Homo sapiens: one gene and its partner. The protein of the gene in region 2 interacts with the protein of the main gene of each other region in a pairwise test. Each region holds a gene or a part of one and is shown on either strand. Other genes may lie near its edges.

The links.
Region 1: the proteins of HIRIP3 (region 2) and AMPD2 interact in binary tests that used the Homo sapiens proteins (3 or more experiments, as listed by UniProt).

What each region holds. Positions count from the first base shown.
Region 1 is NC_000001.11:109,610,820-109,627,552, reverse strand, and holds the start of AMPD2 (AMP deaminase 2), read right to left. Parts: upstream 7,717-16,733; 5' UTR 7,285-7,716; coding exon of another isoform or gene 7,275-7,284; intron 6,640-7,274; 5' UTR 6,446-6,639; coding exon of another isoform or gene 6,378-6,445; coding exon 6,287-6,377; intron 3,525-6,286; exon of another isoform or gene 3,464-3,524; intron 2,251-3,463; coding exon 2,120-2,250; intron 1,892-2,119; coding exon 1,761-1,891; intron 1,394-1,760; coding exon 1,325-1,393; intron 1,235-1,324; coding exon 1,126-1,234; intron 828-1,125; coding exon 641-827; intron 379-640; coding exon 237-378; intron 125-236; coding exon 35-124; intron 1-34. Other genes in the region: GNAT2 (guanine nucleotide-binding protein G(t) subunit alpha-2), read left to right, coding at 14,683-14,800. UniProt on the Homo sapiens protein: AMP deaminase plays a critical role in energy metabolism. Catalyzes the deamination of AMP to IMP and plays an important role in the purine nucleotide cycle.
Region 2 is NC_000016.10:29,989,326-30,000,344, reverse strand, and holds HIRIP3 (HIRA-interacting protein 3), read left to right. Parts: upstream 1-4,727; 5' UTR 4,728-4,739; coding exon 4,740-4,804; intron 4,805-4,881; coding exon 4,882-5,002; intron 5,003-5,127; coding exon 5,128-5,242; intron 5,243-5,501; coding exon 5,502-6,439; intron 6,440-6,536; coding exon 6,537-6,705; intron 6,706-6,787; coding exon 6,788-6,886; intron 6,887-6,974; coding exon 6,975-7,138; 3' UTR 7,139-8,015; downstream 8,016-11,019. Other genes in the region: INO80E (INO80 complex subunit E), read right to left, coding at 3,485-3,537, 3,728-3,798, 3,954-4,034. UniProt on the Homo sapiens protein: Histone chaperone that carries a H2A-H2B histone complex and facilitates its deposition onto chromatin.

The DNA of each region.
Region 1 (16,733 bases), on a different chromosome or scaffold from region 2:
GGGAGCTAAGTGTCTGGGATGGCAGGGGACTCACATGGGGCCATTGATAATCAGGGCCATCAGCACATTGACGTCAGCCACAAATTCCTGCAGGTCAGGGTATGGCAGCTCCACCTCTGAGCAACTGGCATGGAGGGGAGCTTGGGTGAGGAGAGCAAGCCGAGCCCTGTGGCCTCTCCCAAGCCAACGCAACCTCCCACGCTGCATCCCCCCAACATGCACCACACCCCTCTTACTGCTCGTCGGGTTCCCTGCGGGTGTAGACGTGCACCACACCCCGCACCATGCGCAGACCCAAGCCCAGGTCCCCAGGCATGGTGCTTGGCTCACAGTGCTCATACGGGTGCTGCTCCAGCGCAGGGGGGTGCACCGGGGCATCTGCAGGGGTGAGGAGGGTAAAGTCAGAGCAGGGCTCTTCCAAGCCACCCACTGCCCAACCCAAAGGCCCCACAGAGGGCAAGAGATGTTGAAGACCCAGTAGGTCAGACAGCTCCTGCCCAACCTCCACCCCTGTACCCCAAGAGGTTGGAATGAGCCTGGGTTGTAGGGAGAGGCAGGCAGGGCAGAGGTGCCCAGGCACCAGGCTGAGAAGCCCAGGAGGCTAGGGCACATGGCATGGGGCAGAGATGGGGAGTCCCACCAGCAGACACAGGGGTGTCGGGGCCCTGTTCATAGGTCCGGGTCTCCAGAGGCTTTTCAGCCAGCTGCTGCAGGTAGCGGCGGGTGGTGGGGCAGAAGCTCTGCAGGGACAGGGCCATGTACTTCTCCCGGATGAAGAGCGCCCGCACCACACTCTTGGCTGCATCCAGCAGGTCTGTGAACGGCACCTGGAGATGAGGATATGCGATCACTCTCCTCAGTCTTGGACTCAGAGACCTCCTCCCTAAGGCCTTATCTTAGAACCCAAACTATCCCCACCTCCCACAGGCCCTGACCCCCAGGAACACTCAGATCACCCTGGTCCAGCACATCAAGTGGCTCCTAGGCAGCCCCTCTGCCCCTCCGCCCCTCCAGCTGCTGGAAAGAGAAACGCCCTTTCCAGCCCCCACCCCCAGCTCTCCAGGCTGGGGGAACCCACTAAGACATAGGTGATGGCGACTCACCCAACATACACCCCATACTTACCCCACACTTCTCCTCCCCAGAGATGGTGACCCGCTGAAACTCCCGTTCCAGCACATCACGCTCCCGCAGGCTCCGGTCACCCTGCCCCTCACCCTGTTCCTTGTAGAGCCTGCAGGGGGTGCATTCAAGGGAGGGGTTTAGAGCCGGCAGAAGGGCAGGCTGCAGCTCCGCATCCCCTGTGCCCCTCTGCCCTCCTCACTGTAGGTCCGAGTCACTGTCCGTCTTCAGGAAATCTTGCTTGGCCCGAAGCAGGATGTCTGGCTCCAGCCTAGAGGCAAGAGGGGTGAGAAGTCAGGCAGATCCCGAGGGACGGCCCTTGCTCCCAGGTCCCAGCACCGCACTAGGTGCTGTGCACATGTTGTCACATGTGATCCTCAAAGGCAGAGCTGCAGAACCCTGTGCTGTTCTCACTCACTTTAGAGATGAGAAAGCAGACCCATAAGTTAAGCAACATGACCCAGCCACACCGGCGGCTAGAAGACAGAACAGAACCCAGCAGCCCGACTCCAAAGCCCACTCTATGCTCCCTGTGCAGACCCCCCAAGGCAGGGTGCGAGGGAAAGAGGCAGAAAAGGGGCTCTGAAAGGGTCTGGAAGGGTATGGAGGGAGACTAAGCAGCTGCCTGCCGGGCTCACTTGACATCCTGGCTGATCTGCCGCTCCAGCCGCTGCCGCCGCTCCTCCAGCTGTTCAATGGGGCTCTCCTCGGGGAACTCATACGGGGCACTACGGAGCTCGCTCTCAGCCAGTGAGCGGGTGAACAGCTCCTGGGGGGAGGGAAGGAAGGTCAGCATGGCTGGCCCTCCGCCCTCGGGCACTCTCCTACAGAGTCTGGGGATGGGGTGAGGGCAGCAGGACCAGGGGTACCTGGGAGAGGCTGAGGATCAGGAGACAGCCAAGCGTGAGGTGAGGGGACAGCTTGAGGTGAGGGGTGTGGGGAGCAGAGGCAGGGCATGGAGACACGGGGTGAGGGTGCGGGTGGTGCCAGGTGATACCTCGGCGATCTCCTTGCATTTGCCATCCATAGACGTGCGCAGGTCGAGCGGGAAGTGCTTGAGGCAGGGGGCGGGGCCCGGCAGGGATCGGGCAGACTGCAGCGGAGGGGCCCCCAGACCACCCCGAGCCTCTGCAGAGACAGTGATGCCAGGGTCAAAGGGTGGAGGGGCAGCCCCTGAAAGCCCTGGGCCCCTGCCCTGCCTAGGCCAGCTCCCGAGAGAGCCCAGGGTCGGGAAAGAGGGCAGTCCCTCCTCAGTAGCTGAGGAGTAGGCCTGTGTGTGTGGCTCCCAAAGGGCTCACCCTCACCTCTAACGCAGGGACCCCTCACCCATTCCAGGCTTGGGGTGGGGATTCTGAGTCTGCCCCTAGAACAAGTAGATTCATTACCTCCACAAATGAGACTAGAGCCTGATCCCTCAGGCCATGAGAATCTCCACGTGACTACCTCCCAGAGGCAGGTGCACGTGTGTACGTGTGCACACACATGCACGTACGCACACAGACACCCTCAGAGACACACACCAGGTGCTTGGTAAGGACCAGGCGGCCACACCAGGGACCCCCAGCCTGCAGCTCCCAGGGCAGGCAACCCAGGATCAGACCCGCCCCTGGACTAGCAGATTCTCCACTCAAAGGGGCAGGGCCCTGTGCCTGACATCCTAGACCTGTGCAGCACAAGAGAAGCCGCAGCTGCTGCTCAGCTCTGACCTAGGGACGAGCCCTCAAGGGAAGAGGAGAGGAAGTGGAGGGCCTGGTTGGCAAGGGAACCCTACCTCCTCCCTGGAGGCCCGCCCTGTCCCCCAGGGCCCCAGGGCTGCCAAAATGTGGCCTGGCCTTAGCCTGCCCCTCCAAAAGGAGCTGCCACAAACAGTCTATGCCACTCAGGCCCCAGGATCTGGACCGGGGGCACCACAGAGGGCCCTGGGGAAGGGAGTGTCAGAAGCCAGGGGTCTTTCTTCATCAAGACTAGACTTTCCATCTGTACCACGAGGAGGCTGGCACCAGAGGGCCGTGAAGCTGCTGGTCTATGGGGGCTGCCAAGGCTTCCAGCCTACCCCGAAGGACCCTCCCTGGGCTCAGCAGCCCCAGCTCCTCAGTGAGAAGCTTTCCACACCCAAACTGCCTCTCTCAGCCGGCTGTAAGGAGTGCTCCCCTCCAGCACCCTCCACCCTGGCTTAGGGAAGGATTACAGGATCTGCCTAGGTAGCCGGCCTTAAAGTCTCTGCGCCCATTTCCCAATACTCCAGGACTGGTCCCAAAGCTGGACAAAGGGAAGAGGGAGGGGCCTGCCCCAGATCCAGGACCCCGTCCCCTGCGCACCCCGGCCCCTGCCTGAACCCTACCTGCAGAGTGCAGGCAGCTCCGGCCAGCAGCCCTGTGCCCCTTGCCCGCCTGTTTGCCAGTGAAGCTGCAGCCGGTCCCTCAGGGGCTGGCACAGGCTGTACCAAGTGCAGCTGCAAGCAGGGGAGACCCTGAGATGGCCGTGAGCACGGAGCTAGGGGAGTTCAAGGGAGCCCAGAAACCAAGGGAAGGAGCATCAGAGTTGGGAGATAAGACGAACTCCAGAACTGAAGAGGGCCTCCACCTCTACAGTGCCAGGGAAGACCCAGCCAGATGTGAGGCTCCTAAGGGGGAGTAGCAGGGTAGGCTGACTTGGGCAGGGCAGGCCGACAGGGAGGAGCCAAGCCTCCTTAAAATCCACTGCCCTAGGGGACAGTGAGTGGGCAGGGCCTGGCTGGCCAAAGAGTAAGAGGGGAGAAAAAGGAGGGGAACAGCGCTCTTCATCACACCCACAGCCCCAGGTTGGCCTCTTCTGGCAGTGGCCTTGTTGCTCACCACTGTCCTCTGGGCCCTGATTATGGCATCCCTCAGGAGAGACAGGGCCTTTGCTGGGGTAGGAGCTGGCTGGCAGCTGGGGAAATGGCCCAGTCTAGGTAGGGGCCAGTCACTGAGGCTTCCCCGCTGCCCAGCTGCTCAGGGGGCTGGTTCGCAGGCCCCTAGACCTGCAACCCCTGATCCAAGCCTATCATCAGGGACAGGACAAACTGTCCAGAATAAGTTTGGGAGAAAGGGGGCTAGAATTTGGAGAACATGGATCTGATTCTGTTCCTGCTTCCGGGCATGTCTCTACCTACCTCTGGGAGGCTTTGGGTCCTCATCTACAAGTGGGGCGATAAGTGGTCCCTTCCCTGCCTAGCCACAACTGCCATAAGGCTCACAGAGATAATGGCTCTGCAAGTGTTCTGCAAAACACCAGGCTCTGTGTTGAGGCAAGGCCTGCAATTATGAACTCCTGGGACCCTCAAAATACATTCTACCTGTAGCCCCGCCCACTGAGGACAGTGGGAGGTTCCCTGGGCCCAGTGCAGGGCAAAGGCAATAGGCCAGTAAAGGGCAGTGAAGTGAACTTGGCAGGAGTGGAGATGGGGTGACTCTATCTCTTACTTGGAAAAGGACAAAGTGGGAAGAGGAAGAAAAGAGGGGAAGCTGTCTCACCCCCAGAGTGTAAGATCTTTTCTTGCCCGAGAACCCTGATTTTACACACCTCCTCCCTACATATGGCCCCAGACCACTTCTGACTCCTTCTAGGGGAGGCCGACCACAGACCTCCATGGCTGGTTCATATTGGGTCAGCAGGAGTTGAGTCAAAGGCTCAAATCTCAACCCCCTCTCCTAGCAGGGGGGTCTCAGGCTCCACAGCAATCCTGGGGTGAGCAGGACAGATTCCAACAGCCAGTGCCATCCCCCCAGCCTGCCAGACCACTCTCCAGGGCTGCCGCAGGCTCACTGAAGGTGGCACACGGGCAGTAACCGCTACGTTCTCAGAGGCCAGGCCTAGAAGACTCAGCTGCCTACTGGTCCTTTCTCTAGGGGTCAGCACCACACACATACACCCACACTTACGGAGAAGTCAAGCAAAAGCCAGAGTGGGCTGCTCCAGAGCCACTCCCACCAACTCTGAGATTCTGAGCACCCCATCTCCCCTCTCGACCAGGAGCCCCTCACACACTGCCACGACTGCCTCAGTAGGCACAGGGGTGTCCACGGCTTTGACCCCACAAGTATCAGATGCTCTTACCATCTGACCACCGAAGGGTCTCCAGCTCTGGGCTAGATCCGTATCAGTTGCCCTATTGCTGAACCAAACAGGGCCAGGAAGGGCCCCACCCAGGGGACACCCTTTCTGGATGGCACAGACCTGGGCACAGAGAACACCCTCAGGACAGTAGAGACCTTGCACCAGTCATCTTCAATGAAACAAAAAAATATAGGAGGTTGATACTTGGGCTATAGCTACAGACAGCTGCAAGGGTGGGGGCAGTCGGCATGATCTGGTCATCAAAGTCAGGGTGGGTCTTTCCTTAGCCACAAGGCCTGGGAGCAGACAGCAGGCAGATATCCCTCTGCAAGCACAGAGCCAGGCAGCCAAGCCCTCACTGAGACAGGCACTGCCGCACCTCACTGCCTGCTCCAAATGATGCAGAGATGCTTACTAGAGTGAGAGACGAACCAAAGGGTGCAGAAGCACACACAGTGCGGGCAGCAGCCCCAGCCTGAACCCTGCACGGACCTGACCAAGGACACCCCATACTCCTAAGGAGGCTCACAATATAGACCAGGAATGAGCAAATAGCAAACGATAGATACAGTCAAGCCCCCAGTTGTGGGATGCCAGCCAGCAATGGTTGTGCCCAGATGTCAGACCCCCAGTGAGGGGGATCTAGATGTGGGGTCCTAAAAAGTGGAACTAGCCACAGAACAGCCTAAGCCTGCCTGGTAAAGGCACAGGCGCCAGTCAGAGTGGCCAGTCCACAAAACAGTCAGTCCCACACACCCCCGCTCCATTCACACATGCTTCACACGCAGTCTTAGCACATGCACACGCTGACACGTGTGCATACACACCTCTTGCTGCACCCACACCATGCCCACTCCTTGTGACAGAGGACAGCATCCCTGGCACAGATATCTCAGATCCACCCCCCGCCCCCCACCACCCCTCACCCCACCTTCCAAGCCGGCTGTCCCTGGGACTGAGGTTGAGGGGCACCACCACAGAGAGGATGCCGGAGGAGGTGGCCCCCTCTGAGGGGACCAGCACCTTGGGCGAGAGGTGGCAAGACAGAGCCCAGCATCTATCCTGAGGCCAGGAAGCACACACTCACCTGGAGCTGCAGTGGAGGCCTGCAGGCTGGCCCGCTTCTTAAAGGGATATTTGGCCTTGGGCTTGCCAGAGCCAGATGGATAGGATGCCATGGCTGGGACCACGGCGGCGACAGCGGGGGAGTCTGAGCGGCACCGGCTGGGGCCTGGCTCTGCCACATCCAACCCCTTCCTCCGCCCCGCCCCCAGCGGGAGTGACTGATGCAGGAAGCAGCGGCTCCGCAGGCGGAAGAGGCCCTGGCCACGATTTCTCATGTTGTCTAGGCAACCTCGGGGAGTGGGGCCTCCATCTCTGCCCCTTATCCCTCCCCTGCCTCCTCAGTCCCAGGAGTGACGTGACTGATGGTGGCTGGGCCTGGCGGGGGGCGGGGAGGGGGTGGGTAGAAAAGAAGATGGGGAAGGGCCAGCCCCCAGCTCTCCACTAACCCACCAAGAGCCCTCACCCCATCATGCCAGGGCTCCCGGGCAAAGAAGCCAAAGTCCAGGCTAGCTGGTCCTTCCAGCTAGCCTGGAAGAAAAAAGAATAACAAACAGGAATTCAGCAGCGAGCGAGTCCAAGCTCAAACACAGTCCTCCCGGGGCAGGGCAGGCATACTCCGTGAAAACCCAGCACCCACTTTCCTTCCACATCTGACCCTCAGCTCCCGGGGTAGCCCAGCTCTGGGAGGAGGGGGAAGAACCGAGAATCCCAGCCCAGGAGGGAGGGGCCTGTCCCGGGAAAATTCCACCGTCGCCAAATAGCTACCTCCCAGGAAGGCAGGAAGGCCAGGAGACCCCCTTGTCTGGGGGTCTGGGACAGAGACCCTAGCCTCTTTGGATTTTTCCTCTGTCTCTGCACACTCTGGCTCTGCTCCCCAGGCCCTCCTGGGAGGAGCTGACCGCCTTCCCTAGGTCCTGCTGCTGTGCTGTGACTCCCACCCTCTTGTCACTCTGGCCACAGCACTTCTCTGTCCCAGAGACCCTCCCTCCAACACACGTACACACACTCACCTGAGGCCATGATGCCCGAGTTCCGAGGGGAGGCTGCCCACGAGAAGTCTGTACAGCAGAAAGCCCGGGTCCTGAGGGACGGCAGGGGGATCGGGCCACAGACCCCAGCCAAGTCACTCCAAGGGCCCCTGCCCTGGCACTGAGATGGGGAAAGTAAGGCAGTCTTTCAAAATTGCCAGCTGGCCGGAGGTGGACTCCCGCAGACCTCGGCAGCCGGACTGGCCTCAAGGCGACCCCGGTGTCGCGACCACCCAACCCTGCAATCGAGAGGCTGGTAGGCCACGTGCTCCCAAGGGAGCGGGACCCGAAACTCGTCCAGATTTCTCTCAACACTCCCTGGGCATTCAGGGTCGGACTCCCGCGGCCGGACTGTGGGGGAGTCACGCAACAGGTGAGACCCCACCAAAATCTCGCCGGCTCCGCGCCAGGCTCTGCGGCCCTTGGCCCCGCCCCCGCCTGGCCCCGCCTCCGCCTGCCGACCCCGCCTCGCCATTTTTTTCTCTTCCTGGGCGCCACGTGGGCAGCCACCACACCGCGGTAGGGCTGGCCTGAGCCGACCCTGGGTCTTGGGCCAGTTCCGTGCGTCAGCTTCCTCATCAGTAAGATGGGGTAATGACAGTACCTCACTCAAAGGGGTTACTGTGAAGATTAAACGTAAAGTCCCTTTACACAGTGCCTGGCACGAAGTGAGGGCCCAGTGAAAGGTAGCTGTTATCATTGTCCCAGGATTCATTTTAAGCAGAAGTCCTGCCCCTGCAATCTCACTTGGTCGTCTGTTTTCTTCCGGCCGGCGTAGGTAGGAGGCTGTGCCCTGCAATTCTGGCTCCCCTTCCCACATTTCTGTATTTGGTGGTTAAGAGCTTTAACTCTAGCCAGAATGTCTGGGTTCAAATCCAGATTTCACCTACTTCCTGACTGATACTGGGCAAGTTACCTAACTTCTCTGTGCTTCTATTTCGTCTGTAAAATGAGTGTAAGAGTACCTGCTTTATATGGTGGTTAAGATAAATGAGTTAATATAAGTTAACTGCTTAGAACTGTGCCTGGCCTGTAGTTAGTACTCAGTATTCATGTATTACCATTGCTTTAGCCTTGGCCTTGGTTCTCTATTGACACTCACAGGTTGATTCACTTGCAGCCGTTCTGGGGTCTATCCAACAAGCATCCCCACTGCCAAGGGGTAGATAATCCGACCTAAAGGGAACTTGTGGAGGGAAGTCCCTAAGACTTCACTGAATATAATTAAATGCATTAGCAGGAATTAATCTCTTCCCTATTTTCCCTCTTGTGGGAGGCCTTTGCCCCCCACACCCAGTTGTTCTAATGCTGTTTGTCTGGCTCCTCCCAGTTCTTACCACTCCCACAGCAGAGATCCTTCCCAAACTCTGCCTCCCTCTTCTCTCCCCACGCTGGATTCTGGACCCTGAACCCTTTTCTCCACCTGCATCTGGTGCCACTTCCATTGATCCCTGGCTACTGTTCCCTGAACAAACTTAAAAAAAACTTGGCCTCTTCACCTCACACAGAATCCATAAAACTAAAAAGAGAACAGAGATAACCAGGTTTACCTAATCAAAATAGCAAAGACTAAAAAACAAAAAACCAAAAAATAAACGCTAATGCAGGTTGGCAAGGGTATAGTTAGTGAGATGGGAGACACACACACACGTACATGTGCACAAACACATTACTGGTGGCCTTGAACACTGATATAATCTTTCTGAAAGCCATCTGGTAATATAGAATCAAAATTTTCAAAAAGGTTCTTATTATTTGACCCAGTAATCAACTTTCTGGAAGTTGTTTTTCTAAAAAGAGCTGCCAGAAAAATATGTATGCAAAAAGTTGTTCAGCACCACAATGTGTATTGCATAGAAAAGTTAGATACTTTAAAGGTCGAACAATAGGGGAATGTTTATGTAATATTCATACCATGAAATACAGCCATTAAAAATTGTTCTTGGAGAAATGTTTAATGATGTGGAAATGTTTACAATATAAAGTTAGGTAAAAGAATGGATGCAAAACACTATACACAGTATGGTCCTACTTATGTGATATACATGGGTAGAAAAGAAACACACCAACAAGTTTACCAATGATTATCTGTAGTGATGGAATTATGGGTTATATTTATTTTCTTTATATTTATTTGCATTTTAGAAATTATAATACATACCCATAACTTTTATAATCAAGGGGATAGAAATCAACAAAAATCTGTAAAAATCTGTAATTGCCTCCACAGTCCCCCCAACCCAGCCTTCCCGGGGTCTTAACCCCAGACTTAAACTATTCTGTTTACATTTATGGCCCACTGAATTGGTCTTGGGGCGCTTAGGGATTTTGAGGCTGATGGACTCTCAAGAATGAATAAAATGAATCTCAAAAATCAAGCACCATGTAACTACATAAATGTCATGTATCTTCTGATAAGATGCAAATGTTGACATAGTTTTAAAGATAGTATCTTGCATTGGGCCAGGTCTCTTGAGCATCCTGCTTAATGCAGACCTACCTACCTCAGCAGCCAATAGGTGGCAATCCTTGCCCTCCACCCAGCCCAGGCAAACCAGTTCATTAGTCCCTTTATGCTAGTCCCCTAGTCCCATCTGCAACACACCCTTCACTCTACAACCCTCCCCTATTTCCAGGTCATCTGGTGTATTGTTGCTGCTAGGAAGTCGGCCCTGATTATAGTTAGGCATCAATCCCTCCACCCACTCCATACCAGCAAGAATCTCAGTGAGGTTTCATTGTCTACGCAGAACAGAGCTTGGGAAATAAAGGAGTGAGTCATCCTATGGCCTGGGCTTTTTTCACACTGAGGCCTTAACATTCATTGCCTTTGAGCCTCTGAGATATTCCCTAGCTCCAAACACAGCTTCCTCCCCTCCTAGCCTGTTCCCCACATGGCTCCTTAACTGGCCCTCCCGGAATCCCAGCTCCCTAAAGATGGTGCACTCCTGTTTCTCTGAAGAAGTGCTTTTCTTTGCTTCTGGACTTCAGCTCACTTGTGATGTCCGCCTCCCTAGCTAGGCCAGAACAATCTTCACAGATACTAAACTTGGGAGAGAATATCTGCAGCTCCAAAAAGGTCCTTGGCCAAGGCAATTTCCCAAACCATACCTTATGCCTAGGCCCTTCTAGAAACAAGCTGTTCAGCTCTGGTTTCTCAGCTTCTCCCAGCAGCCAGCTCCCTCTCCCCCTCACCTCAGTCACCCAGCATTGTGTTTATAGCACCATACAGCTGTTTCCATCTATACTTGTTTATAAGACCCCAGTGGATTTTAGTCAAACCCCTTGCCATTGAAGGCGCTTCACTGGCTGGCTCCAATTTCCCTTTCTTGTCTTCATCTTCACCTCCCAACCCTCCACTCCATGCACCTTTCACTCCAGTCCAGTCACATCAAAGTCCCAGTCTTCTCTGAGCACACCTTGTACTTTGTGCCTCTACCTCTTTTTTCATGCTCTTTCCTTTCCCCAAAATGCGTATCTCCCACTTCCACTGTTATTCTGCTTCTCTGTGGAAAGTCTATTCATTTCACAATCACCCTTTTCTTTCTTCCGCTGTAGAACTTTGTCAGTCTGACAGTCAGATGTGTGTTTGATTGCCTTTCCTACCAGGGGTGAATGCTAGGTCTTAAACAGCTCTGAATTTCCCAGCACTACTGCAGTATCCCTTTAACTCATTTGTTTTTCTGTGAATTTCCCCCACCTCTGCCTATGGACTGGAAGGTCCTGAAGGTAGTTCCTCATCCTTCATGTCCTCCCACTCCATCTGGGACAAGTCTTTACCCACAATTCACTTAAGACAAGGCTTACCACGGATGTCAGACAGATCCCTTAACTCAGGAAACATGCCCAAATCACTAAGAAACAGTGATTTACTTTTCATTCAAAATGATAATGGTTATAAAGGGCTGTGAATCAAAACACCTGAGCTCTGGCTTGGCTTCTGATACCAACTTGCTTATTAATGTGAGGATCACTTTTCTGTACTTCAGTTCACTCACCTCCAAAATGGAACTAGCACTACATACCTTATTTACTTCATCAGGAAACTGTTCGTAAATGTGATCATAAAGTGGGACAGCCACAGGAAAGGCACAGGAACTGACGATAGAGGCAGAGGCAGGAGGTCACAGACATCAGGATGATGTATGCACAGTAATGGATCTGTACTCTCAGGCCAGGCGAGGGCTAGCAGTTCCCTCTCTCAGCTTAGCAGTGAGAAAGGGGAACTTCCATCCAGTAAGTTAGGGAACAAAGCAGAAGCAGCACAGAAGTTTGCAGAGGTAGTAGCAGAAAAAGGAACAAGCCCACTTTCCCTGTGTGTGAAACAACTTAGTGGTTCCTTTAACAAGGGCTGCTGTTATAGAGTTCATGCATTTGTCCATGCTTTCTCTCTCTGGCTACTTATGTGGAAGTAATAGAAAGAAGGATCACCGGTTTGTCTGTTTACTAGGCCATATAACTTTGTTTTTTTGTTTTTGAAACAGAGTCTCACTCTGTCACCCAGGTTGGAGTGCAGTGGCGCAATCTCGGCTCACTGCAACCTCCACCTCCCGGGTTCAAGCGATTCTCATGCCTCTATCTCCCAAGTAGCTGGGTGCATGCCACCATGCTGGGCTTTTTCTTTTCTTTTCTTTTCTTTTTTTTTTTTTTTTCTGAGACGGAATCTTGCTCTGTTGCCCAGGCTGGAGTGCAGTGCCTCCCGGGTTCAAGTGATTCTCCTGCCTCAGCCTCCCAAGTAGCTGGGATTACAGGTGCCTGCCACCATGCCTGGCTAATTTTTGTATTTTTTTTAAGTAGAGACAGGGTTTCACCATGTTGACCAGGCTGTCTCGAACTCCTGACCTCAGATGATCTGCCCATTTTGGCCTCCCAAAGTGTTGGAATTACAGGCGTGAGCCACCATGCCCGGCCTAATTTTTGTATTTTTAGTGGATACGGGATTTCACCATGTTGGCCAGGAACTCCTGACCTCAGGTCATCCACCCACCTCAGCCTCCCAAAGTGCTGGGATTACAGGCATGCGCCACTATGCCCAGCTGACTTTAAATGAGTTACTTAACTCTCAAGTCTCAGTTAATCTAGTCTGTAAATTGGGGACAATAGCAGTTATTGTGATAATTAACTGGTATGAGCCACTTACATTGTTCAGCAGTTATTAATTATAATAACTATAACATAATAATTATTAATAGTTCCAGGCAGCCCCTTGAACAGTGTAGCCTTCAGCATGGCTCTGGCCTCAGTGTGAGTTACCAGTATTGTGAGTACGCTGGAGCAGGGCTAGCAGTGGGGTATAATTACTGAAACCTTATAACCAAGATTCCAAGATAGTCACAATTTCAAAGAGACTCTCCTGTTTTTCCTTAAGTCAATAAGGACTTGCCAATTTGATTGGGAAAACATGGCTACCATGGAAAGCACCTCAGCAGCTGCATATTTCTCCATCAGCCCCTACAGTCACTGAAAGGTGGTGCGAAGGAGGAAGATAATTAGCTATGGCTCAGGGTACCTGATAGGCGGGGAGACCTAGATTCTACTCCTGACCTTCCCAGTCCCAACTGGCCACTGCTGCACAAGTCCAGCTCTAAAATGAAAGAGCAAATTACATCCTTCGACCTCAGTAGTTCTCCACCTTGGCTGTACACTAGAATCAGCTGGGGACGTTTTTAAATCCTTGTGCCTGGACTGCACTCCAGACCAATTAAATCAGTATTTTTTAAAAAGCTCTCCAGGTAAATGCCACTGTACACTAAAAGTTGAGAACTGTTTCAGGCCAGGGTTTTTCAAACTTCACAGATGTGATAACTACCTGTATTAGCTTAAAATATTTTCTCTGGCTCTGGAGTTTGATGCTAACATACCATTTAAAAACATACACTATTTTAACATCTCGGAAAGCAGGGTAATCTTCTAGTCAGTGGCACCTAAGACTTGAGGAAACACAGACACCAGCAACCCAGGTGATTCTTAGGATTAGGTAAGTTTAGCGGAAAACAGGTCCCTAGGGCAGTACTTCCCAATCTTTAATGTCTTTAGAGTCACCTGAGATCTTGTTAAACTGCGGATTCTGAATCAGAAGTTCTGGATTAAAGCCTGAGATTCTGCATGTCTAATGAGCTTCCGGGTGATCTGATGTTGCTGGCTCTTGATCCACATTTTGGGCAACAAAATTCTAAAACATCTCCACCTGAGGAGGCTCCGCCAGCAACACTCATTTAAGTAAACTGAAATAATTGGCATAGAGGAGTACAACCTGTGGAGTCCTAAATGTCTGTGAGGCAGTTGCTAGACTGCACCCTCATTTTTCCCCCAGGAAAGGGCAGCTGGGATGAGAGCCAGAAGGAGAGAGAGCTGCCCCAACCTTTGAGAAGCCAGAGTCTGGAGTCCAATTTCCCAAAGAAGCAGAGTTTTTTGTGTGAGGCAGCACAAACCCCACACTGAATACCAGCAAAGTTCATTTATGAAGTGAAGTTGGGACTCAGCTGGCTTTAGTGGGCCAAAGGGAAGCAACCCCATTCTCTTCACCATACACCCTTTTCCTGCATTTATTCATTCACCAAACCTTTTGATCCACAAATAAACTACAAGTTCTGAGAGGTTCAAAGATGAGTCAGATTTGGTCCGTTGAGCTCCAGGGGGAGAAATGCAGTGAGGGAAAAGATTTGTAAAACGACGTACAATATGAAGTGATAAGTGCTAATAACAGAAGTACAAAGAGAGGGGCCAATGCAAAGGAACAATGCTAGTAGCTTCCTGGAGCAGCAGCCACTGCGGGAGCTGAAACATTCCTAATCTTCCCAAGGAAGGGCACCACCCAAAACAAATTTCCTGGCCAGGACCAGCCTATGGTAAACGAGTATGCTTTGATACCCTGAAGCCCTTGAGATCAAGACCTTATAATCTGGAGGCTCAACATAAGGAATGCTTTCTACATATGTGCCAGTAATCTCTAGCTCTATGATGCAAATAAATCTAAGGAAGCAAGAGACTTTCAGGGGATGAACCCCTTAAAGGATGGAAGTAGTCGTGCATCCTATCCTTCCGTCAGAACCCAGCAGATCATTTCCCTAGTTATAGAAACATTTGAGTCTTTACCCCTTGCCATATTGACAAAGCTCTTAATTGGCTTGACCTATCACATTGCTAGATATAAAGGCTACAATCCCTAGACTAAGAAGTAGGTCTCCAGTTGAAGTAGGGAGTCTCAGTCAATGTAGGCAGAGTACAAGACCCTACAGCCTGCTCTCTCACCTGCCATCGTACAGACCAGCTTTTAGGGGAGCCAAGTTGGGATACTCAATCCCAACTTTTTTCCTTCTCTTCCATCTCACATACAGGAAACCTTACGAGAGAGGATTAGGGGCCTGAAAAAGCTGACAAGACGGCAAATATGGGAAGTGGAGCCAGTGCTGAGGACAAAGAACTGGCCAAGAGGTCCAAGGAGCTAGAAAAGAAGCTGCAGGAGGATGCTGATAAGGAAGCCAAGACTGTCAAGCTGCTACTGCTGGGTGAGTGAGATGGGAAGATGAGCCAGAGAAGGCAGGGGTCCTTCCTACTTTCCTGAAGGGTTGGTGGGTTCTACCTCACCCCATGGGAAGGAAGGGTGGCAGGTCATTTTTCCTCTCCTCTACACAGTCTGGCTAGGGGATCAGGAGATCTAGAGCTGAGTTAATATGGGGCCTAAACAGCCACCCCAAGGGGATCCAGAATGCCAAGGCTATTCCAGAGTTTTTCTACTCTTGAGCGAGGAATAGTGCAAGGGCCACCATGAACCCACCCATTTCCAAATCTAACCAAACCTAACACATCCTTTTGGCTTCAAGGACCCTGGACTTGCAGACTGTACCCAATCTGCAGAGAACTCTAAGCCAAGAAATCAGAAGAGAACAGGACCTTCCCTCACCAACAGGCTCACAAGTCCCACCATACAGTCAGTGCCAACAGTACCAGAGATAGTCCCACTGGTTTTTGCCAAGTATAGTGGTTCCTTCTTGCTTTCAGTAAAAACTTTGGAAGTAGGGGGCTCTGAGGAAGGAGGAATGGTGTCTTTATGTACAGCAGTCCCTTCCTGGCTCTCTATTCAATAGCTGCCTGCAAAGCTCCTGCCAGATGGAAGGTTCATCAACTTGATGAGCTCCTAAGCAGATCACTGGTCTGTGCTGAGAAAATAAAAGCACCTCAATTTGTCAGGGAAATTGATCACAGCTGTAAATAAAACCAAGACAAGAACATTTGAGACACGTGGCTTAGGAAAACAAACCACTGGTACCACAGAAGTAGGGTAGCTGGAGCAGGTAGGGTCTACGTAGCAGAAGATTAGATGCCTGAGCTGGGTTTCCAAGCCCCCATAAGGGATCTGGGAGCTGACGCACTAGGCTAAGGCACCTTCTTTTCCCCCAGCTGATCTGTGGCACAGTCGTAAGGACACACTAAAGGAGCATATCTTTGTAAGCTGGACCAGACTCTAAGGAGCCCAGGAGGTTACGCAGGGGGAAACAGAGATGGTGGGGCCACTGAGAGATCTTTTAAGCCTAAGCAGATTTCTTCTACATTCAGGATAAGCTGCTTAGAGGGAACAAGCACAAGCGAAATAGGAGGAGTTCGAGGCATTAGGGTAGTATAAACTCAGTACTAGAAGGTATGAGTTTTTGATGGAGAGAGCAGAGTGTGAATGAGGACATTAGGACACATTAGTCAATAAAGGGAACCCACTTAGCCCCATCCAAGACCAGGTTGAGCAACATGGTGAAAACCTGCCTCTACGGAGGGGCGGGGGGAAATGGCCGGATGCAGTGGCGCACGCCTGTAATCCCAGCGCTTTGGGAGGCCAAGATGGGTGGATCTACCTGAGGTCAGGAGTTTGAGACCAGCCTGGCCAACATAGTGAAACCCCATTTCTACTAAAAATACAAAAATTAGTCAGGCATGGTGGCATGCGCCTGTAGAGTCCCAGCTACTCAGGAGGCTGAGGCAGAAGAATTGCTTAAAACCCAGGAGGCAGAGGTTGCAGTGAGCCAAGATAGCACCACTGCACTCCAGCCTGGGAGACAGAGCAAGACTGTCTCAAAAAAAAAAAAAAAAATGTAGTCGGGCATGATGTCGCACACCTGGAATCCCAACTACTCAGGAGACTGAGGTGGGAGGATCACTTGAGCCTGGGAAGTCAAGGCTGCAGTAAGCCGAGATTGTGCCATTACACTCCAGCCTGGGCTACAAACCTGAGACCCTGTCTCAAAAAAAAAAAAGGGAACCAGCAAGGTGATGAAAATATAGTTATTTTGGTGAAATGATCCAGCTCTCTCCAATCCTACCCCAAGATCACTCTCCTGAGTCAAAAATAGGCAGAGAGGAGAAATGTTAAAGGACTCCCCCTGAATCTGTTAGTGGTTTTCAACAGGAAGATTTTGACTGCCAGTGGTCATTTGGAAATGTCTGGAGACA
Region 2 (11,019 bases):
AATCTGACTCACCAGCTGGTGGGCACACGCATGCACCACACACTCGAGCTGTCCCAGGGAGGCCCATAGCCTCTCCAGCCTCCCCAGCCCCCCGCCCGCTCTGGTTCCTCCGTAACACACCTGCCACGCATGGCCAGGGTGCCAGGCTCTTTCCCACTCACCACCTCTCCTTGTCATCAGATCCAAGGAAGGATGGGAAGGGCAGCACCTCCACTTGTCACATGAGGTCACCGAGGCTCAGAAAGTAAGGTGTGAGGCTAAGACTCCAAGCCAGGTCTGTGACTCCTTGGCTGTTTGATGCCACTGGTTCCTTGCCTCTGAGCTGAGCAGTCTTCAACTCCTGCCTCTGCCCCACTCCCCATAACCAGGGTCCTGTTCATCTACCCCTGAAGTCCTCCCCTTCATCCACTGCTCCCCACACCAACTAACACAGGTCAGGCCACCAGCACGTCAAAATCACCTGCTAAGCAGTCTCACCTCACCGTGCCACCCACTGTCCACCCCCAACCCCAGAGTGACCTAAAACAAACCTGGTCACATCCTTCCTGATGACATCACCCACTACCTGCATGAATTCATGGTGCTGCTTAATCTGGCTTCAATGTACCTTTCTGGTCAACTAACGTAACTGTATTCTTTAAAGCACACTGACCTATTTCGTCAAAAAAGAAATGTATTTCCTAGTTCAGTGCCTCTGCCTAGAAGGGCCATCTTTCATCGAACAAACGACTGCTACACCTATAGAAGCCGTTACCAATGTCTCTGCTCAGACAGACCCTTTAAGAAGCAGATTAAATGCCACCTCCTCTGTGAAGTCTTCCAGAATCCCTCAAGCCCAGTTAACTGCAGGCTCTCCTGGAACGCTCTACTCTCGTCATGGCTGCCCTCACACTGTGCTGAAAAGCGTCGTTTGCGAGTGTCTCCCTGGCCAGGGCGTGGGCCTCCAGGACGGGAGTGGGGCTCGCATCGCTGGCTCTTCCTCCTCAGATGCAACCCACTCTGGCCATGAACATGCTGGGTTCTCTCCCACCTCCTGCCCTGAATTCCCCTCAAACAGGATGTTAACTGGAAGCCCCTAGGGAAGGAAGAGGCAGGGGATGAGAGGCTACAATAAAAGCCAAATCTCCTACTATGACCTACCTGAGTGGGCCCCTGCCTATTTCCCCAACCTTATCTACAATCCTCCTATAATAACAAGCAAATGGGTATCATGCGTTCTGACAAAACACTACGTCCTAAAACGTGGCTGGCTGCCACATGCCAATCCCTGCCTCAGACCAATGTGCTTTTTTTTTTTTTTGAGACGGAGTCTTGCTCTGTTGCCCAGGCTGGAGTGCAGTGGCGTAATCTCGGCTCACTGCAAGCTCCGCCTCCCGGGTTCACACCATTCTTCTGCCTCAGCCTCCTGAGTAGCTGGGACTACAGGCGCCCGCCACCACACCCAGCTAATTTTATGTATTTTTAGTAGAGACGGGGTTTCACCATGTTAGCCAGGACGGTCTCGATCTCCTGACCTCGTGATCTGCCTGCCTCGGCCTCCCAAAGTGCTGGGATTACAAGCGTGAGCCACCGTGCCCGGCCCAGACCAATGTTTAAAGGCACCACGGAGAGAGGTGATTCTACGTGACATGGCTTACGAGGGCCTCACCCAGGAAGAGGCCCACAAATGCCTACCTTAGGGCTTTTTCAAACTGTGGGTCTCAAGCCATTAGTGGGTCATGAAATCAATTTATTGGTTTGCAACCAGCATTAAAAGAAGGGGAAAAAAGCAGTCTAAAAAGTGTCAGGATGAATTGGATACAGTGATCTTAAAAATGTTTCGTTAAACTTTGTTTTGTTTAACATGTGGGGCCCTGGTTATGATGTAAAATATAGTTAACTGCAGACAATATTCAAATAAAAGGACGAAAACAGTGTTCTCTCTCTTTCATGCCTCTGCTCTTCAACCAAGCCTGACCTGTTCTTACCTCAGGGTAGCTGCATTTATATTATTCTGCCGGGACAGCTCTAGCCCACTTCTTCACAAGATTGGTTTTTGTTTTTTTTTTTTTTTTGAGATGGAGTCTGGCTCTGTTGCCCAGGCTGGACTGCAGTAGTGCAATCTCAGCTCACTGCAAGCTCCACCTCCCAGGTTCACGCCATTCTTCTGCCTCAGCCTCCCGAGTAACTGGGACTACAGGTGCCCACCAACATCCCCGGCTAACTTTTTGTATTTTTAGTAGAGACAGGGTTTCACTGTGTTAGCCAGGATGGGGTTTCTTTCTTTTGAGACAGTCTTGCTCTGTCACCCAGGCTGGAGCACAGCGGTGCTATCATGGCTCACTGCAGCCTTGACCTTTCAGGCAAGGGATCCTCCTGGTTCTGCCTCCCAAGTAGCTGGGACCACATGTATACACCACTATACATGGCTAATTTTTTTTTAATTGAGATGGGGTCTCACTATGTTGCCCAGGATGGAAGGCTGGTTTCTTCTCTGGTCCCAACTCAAATGTCACTCTGTGAAAGGCCTTTCTTGAGTACTCCATTCAGAGGTTGCCTGCTGCCTGCTTGTGTGGTCTGCAAGCTAAGAAGGGCGTTTTTTTTTTTTTTTGAGACGGAGTCTCGCCCTGTCACCCAGGCTGGAATGCAGTGGCAGCGATCTCGGCTCACTGCAACCTCTGCCTCCAGGGTTCAAATGATTCTCCTGCCTCAGCCTCCCCAGTAGCTGGGATTACAGGTGCACGCCACCACACCCGACTAATTTTTGTATCTTTAGTAGAGACGAGGTTTCACCATGTTGGTCAGGCTGGTCTTGAACTCCCGACCTTGTGATCCGCCCACCTCGGCCTCCCAAAGTGTTGGGATTACAGGCGTGGGCCACTGCACCTGGCCAAGAATGGCTTTTAAGCTTTTAAACGGTTGGAAAAAAAAAAAACTAAAGAAAAATTTTTCATATGGAAAAATATGAAATTCAAATTTCAGTGCCTATAAAGTTTTATAGAAACATAGCCATACTCATGTATTTGCCTATGGGGTACGGCTGCTACTACAATGGCAGAGTTCAGTAGGTGCTTCAAAGATTGTATGTTGCAAAAAGCTTACTTACCATCTGGCCCTTTGCAGAAACAATTCATCAACCCCTGTTCTACTATAATCATTACCGCATAACTGTTTTCATTACCTTCAAGTCCTTCCTATGACCTAAAATTCTAGTCTATTGTCTTCATTTACTTATTCTTCCCAACTAGAATATAAATTACAAGAGGCCAAGGGCTTTGCCTATCTCTGCCTCTGCTGTATCCCCTGTGCCAAGCACAGTGCCTGAAACACAATAGGTGCTCAGTAAGTGCCTGAATGAAAGAACGGTGGAGGTGGAAGGCAAGCAACTAGGCTTAAGGACCACTGGGGGCTGCATCAGCCACCACTGCCTAAAAGGCGGGGGCCCAGGAAGCTTGCTAAGTACCAGGAACCATGCTCTCCACCAATTTTTGAAGACCTTGCTCACCCGAAGAGTCTTCATCCACGTTCTCGTACTGCAGAAGTCGGTCTAGGAGGAAACTGAGGGGAGGGAAGGAGACACGGACAGTGATTTTCCAGCGCAGCAATGTCCTCCTGGGTACCTGTCCCTCCCAGCTGGCCCATCGGATACTTGAAAGAGCCCATGCACTTGTGGCCCTACTCGGGGATGGGGTCCGAATGTAGATTTCCTAGGAAGCACATCGCCCTCCGCCCCTGCAACGTGCCTCACCTCTTGTCCCGGGACACCTTCAGTAATTTCCTTTGCGCTTTCCTCAGCTCCTCCTGGAAGCACTCGTGCTCCTGTATCACGGGCAAGGGGTGCGCTGGGCCAACGGTCCTCCGTGAAGGGCCCCGGAACCAGCGGCCGCTCGCCCCACCCACTTTACACCTGGGTAAACTGAGATCTTGTCCGCGCCAGGCCTCATCCCCCACAGCCTTCCCGCGGCAGCACTCACGTAGATGAGGAACTTGAGCTTCCGCTTCAGATTCCGGTATTTTTTTTTGTAGTCCACTTCGCCGTCCGCCGGCCCGTTCATGACCGGCCCGGGAGTGGCGCCCAGAGTCTGCCCTCCCGCTACCCCAAGCAGTGGCTGCCGTGCCGCTCCCGCCTCCACTTCCGGAGACGCTGCAAGGCTGTGCCGTCAGGACTACAACTCCCGGCGTACCCCGCGCTCAGGGGCGTCACCGCACGGGCCGACCTCCCGGGGGACACTGGGACAGGAGCGCGGCAGCCACTGCGCTGGGGATGGCGTAGCAGCGACGCGGTGACGCCACAAAAATGGCGGACGCTGGAAAGCGCCGTTCCTGACTCTAATGTACTTAGACACTTGAAGCCACAAAAGGATTTATCCCCGAGGTTCCTCATCTGCTCGCGAGGATGCCTTTTCTCTTCTGCCTTGCGAAATAACAGCAGCCTAGCTGTTGCCCGTGACCAGTGAGAAAGGCAGCGTCGCGGGCTGATTAGGTTTCACCCAAAGGGTGCCGGCGCCGAATTGGTTTCTAACGAGAACTTTTAAAATGATCCGTTCCAAAAAAGGGTAGGAGCCGCGAGACCCTCCAACTGCCCAGAGAAAACAAGTCTCGTCTGGCAAAGTTCTCGGCCCACGCGGTCCGCGGCCAAGGGCCAACGGTCCCTCGCCCCACGTTGCCGCAGCACTGCGCGTGCGCGAGCCGCTGTCAAACGCGCTGACGGAGGCCGAGAAGAAAAAAAGGCGGGAGCCGTCAATCCCGGGTTGAGCAAAATGGCGCGGGAGAAGGAGATGCAGGAGTTCACCCGTAGCTTCTTCCGAGGCCGCCCGGACCTCAGGTGCCCAGGGGGTTGGAGATGGGGTTGGAAAGGGCGCGGGTGGGTCGGGACTCCGTCCTGACACCATGTCCCTGCAGCACGCTTACGCATTCCATCGTGCGGCGGAGGTACTTAGCTCACTCGGGCCGCAGCCACCTGGAGCCCGAGGAGAAGCAGGCACTGAAGCGGCTGGTGGAGGAGGAGCTGCTGAAGATGCAGGTGTGCCGGGCCGGAGCCTGGGCCGCGGGAGGCGGAGGCGGGGCTTGCTGCTGAGGAGGAGGGGCCTGACGGGGCGCGGTGAGCGCAGCCTTGGTGCATAGTTTGCCCTCTTGGCGCACACACAGGTGGATGAAGCCGCTTCCAGGGAAGACAAACTGGACCTTACCAAGAAGGGCAAGAGGCCTCCCACCCCTTGTAGCGACCCGGAGAGAAAAAGGTTCCGCTTCAATTCAGAGTCGGGTTAGTGCTTCCTCCCTGCTGTGGGGGCCTTCTGCATCGTTGGTTCACTCAAGAAGCATTCACTGCGCATCTCTTATGTCCCCAGGCGTTAGATGAGGGAGCAAGGCTAGTGAGTCAGGAACCGGGAACAGCAAGTACAGATAGCTGTTTCCTGCTGCCCCTCCAACTGTCAGGGCAGGGCTCGAGGCAACCTATCCGAAGTGAAGGGAGAAGGGACAGGAGGAGCCTGTCTCAACCCTCTCTCCTCTCCATATTCCAGAGTCCGGCTCTGAAGCCTCCAGCCCAGACTACTTTGGACCCCCAGCAAAGAATGGGGTGGCAGCAGAAGTCAGCCCAGCCAAAGAGGAGAATCCAAGGCGAGCCTCAAAGGCAGTTGAGGAGAGCAGTGATGAGGAACGGCAGAGGGACCTGCCCGCACAGAGGGGAGAGGAGAGCAGTGAGGAGGAGGAAAAGGGGTACAAGGGGAAGACTAGGAAGAAACCTGTGGTAAAGAAGCAGGCACCAGGCAAGGCCTCAGTCAGTAGGAAGCAGGCCAGGGAAGAAAGTGAGGAGAGCGAGGCAGAACCCGTTCAGAGGACAGCAAAGAAGGTGGAGGGAAATAAAGGAACTAAAAGCCTGAAGGAAAGTGAACAGGAGAGTGAAGAGGAGATCCTAGCCCAGAAGAAAGAGCAGAGAGAGGAGGAAGTGGAGGAGGAAGAGAAAGAAGAGGATGAGGAAAAGGGGGATTGGAAACCCAGAACCAGGAGCAATGGCCGGAGAAAGTCAGCTAGGGAGGAGAGGAGCTGTAAGCAGAAAAGCCAGGCAAAGAGGCTCTTGGGAGACTCAGACAGCGAGGAAGAGCAGAAAGAGGCAGCCAGCAGTGGGGATGACAGTGGGAGAGATAGAGAACCCCCAGTGCAGAGGAAGAGTGAGGACAGGACCCAGCTTAAGGGTGGGAAGAGGTTGAGTGGAAGCAGCGAGGACGAGGAAGACAGTGGGAAGGGGGAACCCACAGCTAAAGGCTCTAGAAAGATGGCCAGACTGGGCAGCACCAGTGGTGAGGAAAGTGACTTGGAGAGGGAGGTAAGTGACAGCGAGGCAGGGGGAGGCCCCCAGGGGGAGAGGAAGAACCGCTCTTCCAAGAAGAGCTCCAGGAAAGGCAGGACACGAAGCTCCTCTTCCTCCTCAGATGGAAGTCCAGAGGCCAAAGGAGGGAAGGTGAGGGTGAGGAGGGGTGGGAGGCCACTATTAGGGAAGAGGGAGACCCTGCCTCAGGCCCAGCAGGCTTGGCCTTCAGCTGCTCTTTCCTTGCTAGGCTGGCTCAGGTCGCCGTGGAGAGGACCACCCGGCTGTGATGAGGCTGAAGCGCTACATTCGGGCCTGTGGTGCCCATCGAAACTACAAGAAGCTGTTGGGCTCCTGTTGCTCACACAAGGAGCGCCTGAGTATCCTCCGGGCAGAACTGGAAGCGCTAGGCATGAAGGGTGAGGCCCGGCGTGCCCTGGGGGCTGCAGGAGAGGGCCTTCCTGCTGGGGAGGAGAGAATCACCAGCTTCTTCTGCCCCAGGTACCCCTTCCCTAGGGAAGTGTCGGGCCCTGAAGGAGCAGAGGGAGGAGGCAGCTGAGGTGGCCTCCTTGGATGTTGCGAACATCATCAGTGGCTCGGGTAAGGGGTTTCCTCTCACTGCCCAGGAGCAGATAGGTGGGGTTGGACCTTCTCAGACATCTGATCTCTCGTTTCCCCTTTCCCCTAGGCCGGCCACGCAGACGTACAGCCTGGAACCCTTTAGGAGAAGCAGCACCCCCAGGGGAGCTGTACCGACGGACCCTGGACTCAGATGAAGAGCGGCCCCGTCCCGCACCCCCAGACTGGTCACATATGCGTGGCATCATCAGCAGTGATGGCGAGAGTAACTGAGCTCTGCCACCCCCAGGAGGGACCCTTGATACATGTACAAAGCATACATAGCACCCCTTGCCCTGTGTCTGTGGAACAGAAGCAGCTTCCTTCAGAGAAGACTGCAGCTCCCAAGGACACAAGCTGTTGGGATGCTACTTCTCAGCTTCACGCTGTCCCTTTAAGGTGTTTATTTTTTAAGACTCAATAAAGGAGTGTTTTTAATCACCTCATCAAATTTGGTCCCCCATTCTCACCTCCTGTATTTTGGGCCAGGAAACTGAGCAGTAGTCACTGCCTCCACCTCCTCCCCTGGCCTGGTTCCCTTTAATTTCCCCCGGGTTCCTGGAAGAAGTCCCTGCCTCCAGACCCTGTCATCCAACAGCCACCAGACCCTTTTGGAGAAGGGTGTGTGGCTCCTGTGCTGCCCGCCTACCCCGTGGCCCCTCTGCTTTTAGCCTAGTCTGATAACCTAATGCCCACTTGGGAGAGGGATAGAATGACTTGAGGGCAGCCAGTGCTTAAGCCTTCTCCCTTATGCAAACAGCCACTTTGTCCATGGGCTGTTAGCCTCAAAGGGGTGGGGAAAAGCCCATACCTCCTGGGCCAGTCCTAGCCCTCTAGGCCTCTGGCTACAGGCCCAGCCTCTGCAGTCACATGAGGTCTCCACTGAACTCTGGCTGCTGAGGCTTGCGGGAAGATTCGTGAGCATGGAGCTGCCTGGGGTCTGTGTGGGAGGCAAACCTAAGAATCTTTGAAGTCAAAGCAAAGAAAACGAATTAGAGGTCAAGGGGTTGAAGACCACCTTTGAGATCCGAGATCTGGTCACACCTAAAGTCATTAAAATCACTGAAATGTTTAGATACACAGCCCAATAAATTCTCTTTATAAAACACAAGCAGTACTATTCAGTGGCCACTGAGCAGTCCTTCACGCACACCAAAGACAGAAGGGTGAGTCCTGAGATCTGTTAGAATAACCAACAGTTTATTAAAAGCTTGCCTGGGGCTCTGTGCCAGCCCCACAGCTGAGAGGGGCTCCCACGACTGCCCCCCAGGCCTGGGAGCAGCCCCTTCCAAGGTCCTTCCCTTGTTTCCCCGCCCCAGCCCTGATCCCAATTAAAAAAAAAAAAAAAAAGATAAAGGACAAGACGGCACAGGACGTCAGACAGTTACGGGAAGAGACCCAGGCATCCTGACCCCAAGACCCCATCCTGATCCTTCCTGCCAGTAAGGTGGCCTCTCATTCTCCCTGCCTCAGGCCCCAGACCTGCTCTGCCCTGTGGCAGGTCTGAGGGCCTCACTGTGAGGGTAGTATAGTTCTCTGAATATAGTATGTCTAGACCCACCCTTCCCCTCCCCCAGGGGACTAGATGAATATTTGACACGCACATCTCCCTCCTTTCCTAGGTGGCGGAGGGAGACCCCTGGCACCATGGTAGGGAGGCGGGGCTCCCAGGCAGCCTTGAGGCACCTATCGCCAAGCTGGCCCTGGGCCACTGGCCAGCCCCAAGAAGCTCATGAGATGAGGAGGTCTGAGGGGAGCTGGAGCCTACATCTTGTCCCCTACCCTTGCAGGGGCCTCCAGCTCAGTGCCCTCCAGGGTCAGGCTCCACCCACCCCTGCCCTGCCCAGCTCATCTGCTCCTCCCCGCTGCACCTCAGGAATAGAAGTGGGAAGAACCATTGAGGATGTGGGAAGCGACACTGGTGCTGCGGCTCAGGGGCCCGGGCACCGCGGCAGCAGGGGGGCCCACATTCTCACTGCCACTGCCCCCCGAGGCTGCCCGCCGCAGGGGCTGGGGGCTGTTTCTTAGCAGCAGCAGGGCTCCGCCACGGGGTGTCCCACTTTGTGTGGGGGGCCCCAGCCAGTTTGGGGGGCCTGGGGGAGCCAGCAGAGACGGCTGACGCCAGGCTGGAGGGGGCATGCCTGGTGGAGGAGGGCCATGGCTCCAGTGTGCCCCAGAACGGGGAACGGGACGGGAGGGCCAGGCTGGGGCAGGGGGTGGAGCAGGATAGCCCTGGGCAGCAGCTTCAGCCGGGATGCCCCCCAGAGCCATGCTGGAGAAGCCCAGCCTCATGCTTTCCGCATCGAAGGCCTCGATCTCACGGGCCTGCCGCTCAAGCAGACTGCGGATTCGCTCGGAGCGTCCTGTCTGCAGGGCCAGCAGCTCCTCTTCCACCTGGGGCATCCGGAACAGAGGTTAGAGTCGGGGGCAGGAGCCCACCCTCCCTCCCCAGTCCTGGAGGCTGGGCCCCTTACCCGCTGCTCCAGCAGTGCCCGCCGCAGCGCGACCCTCTGCTCCAGCTCCCGCAGCTCCCTCTCGTGCTGGCTCTCTGTGCGGATCTTGATCTTGCTCTGGTAAGCGTTGAGCAGCTCCAGCTCCTGTTGAAGCTGCTGCCGAAGGGCCTGGAACTCTGCCTCCTGGGTCTCATCAAGCCGCAGCTGGGGAAGATGAACAACCAGTTGTAGGGATCTCCTCCCCCACCCCCACTATCCTCCCCTGCCCCAGGTAGGCCTGGGCCCTAAGGTTTCAAGAAGCAGCGGTCTCAACATCTATCAGAATGGAAGATGGTCATACCCTGTGGCACAGCAATTACACTGCAGAATCTATCCCCCAGGTATACTTGCACATGTGCTCGAGGTGTTCACGGAAGCGTTGTGATAGCAAAATACTGGAAACAACCTAAATGTCCACCAATAAGGGATGGGTTAAATAAATTATGGTACAGCCATACCATGGAAAATTCTATGCTGTAAAAAAAATGAGACAGGTGTACTGACAGGGGAAGATGTCCAAGAAATATTAAGTGGAAAAAAGAAGTTACAGAAAGTAAATGTAAAGTATGATTCCATCTGTGTTTAAAATTCATATAATTTTTCAAAATGTGCACTGAAAAAACACAAAATACAGTTAATTATTAACAAGTTACCTGGGAGAGGTGGGACTGGGTGAGAGAACAGCCTTGGGTGGGGCGTTTCCACTCTCCACCCTCTCCGCACATTTTAAGTGGCCCATTCCAGTGTTAGGTGTGATCATTTTTTTAGAACAGCAACTTTCAAAATCCTCCAGAAGTCTGAGTAAATGGGCTTGAGGGCCACACTCACTTTAATCTGCACCCTGTTTACCCATTAAACTAACTCAGGCCCAGGAAAAAAATAATAGCCACTCTTTTCCTTGGTGGTTCTTGGGAATAGGCACATGGCTTTGTCAAGACCTTAAGAAAATACTAAGAGAAAGAATAAAACCACTGAGGAGAATATGAAATAAATCATTGTGGAGAACACGAACAGAGGGAGAGTATGTGAGTTTCCCAAGTAAAAAAGCCCCAGCTCTGTGCATGCCCTGCACCGTCCATTTCTCTAAAGCAAAGTACAGAGCCTGGCCTCTAGCGCACTCCCTCCCTGGACCCCAGGCCTCACCGCCTGTGAGCTGAGCATCTCTGAGATGGACTGGTCATACTGCTCCGCCAAGATCGCCAGCTTGCGGGTCTGCTCTTCCTTGAGCCGCTTAAGGAGGCTCTTGTGCTGAGCTTTGGGCGTGGTCTCCAGCAAGTGTGCTCGCAGAGCCTTGTACTGCCGAGTCTGGATCTTACACGTCTCCTGGAACTGCTTCTTGATCTGCAGCTCCTTAGACTATGCAGTGGACGGATCAAGGGGAGATGGGGGCAGCGGGGAAGAGGAGGAGGAAGAGGAGGAAGAGGAAGAGGAGGAACAACCAGGGGAAATGGGGAGAAGAGAGAGAAGAGGAGAGGAGACAGAAGCAGAGACAGGGAGAGGGAGAGAAACAGAAAACATGTTAGACAGAGGGGGTGGGGGGAGCTGTATACAGACAGACAGACATGGAGAGGTGGGATCGTGTTGAGAGAGATCAGGAAGGTCTCGATGGGCAAGAGATGCAGA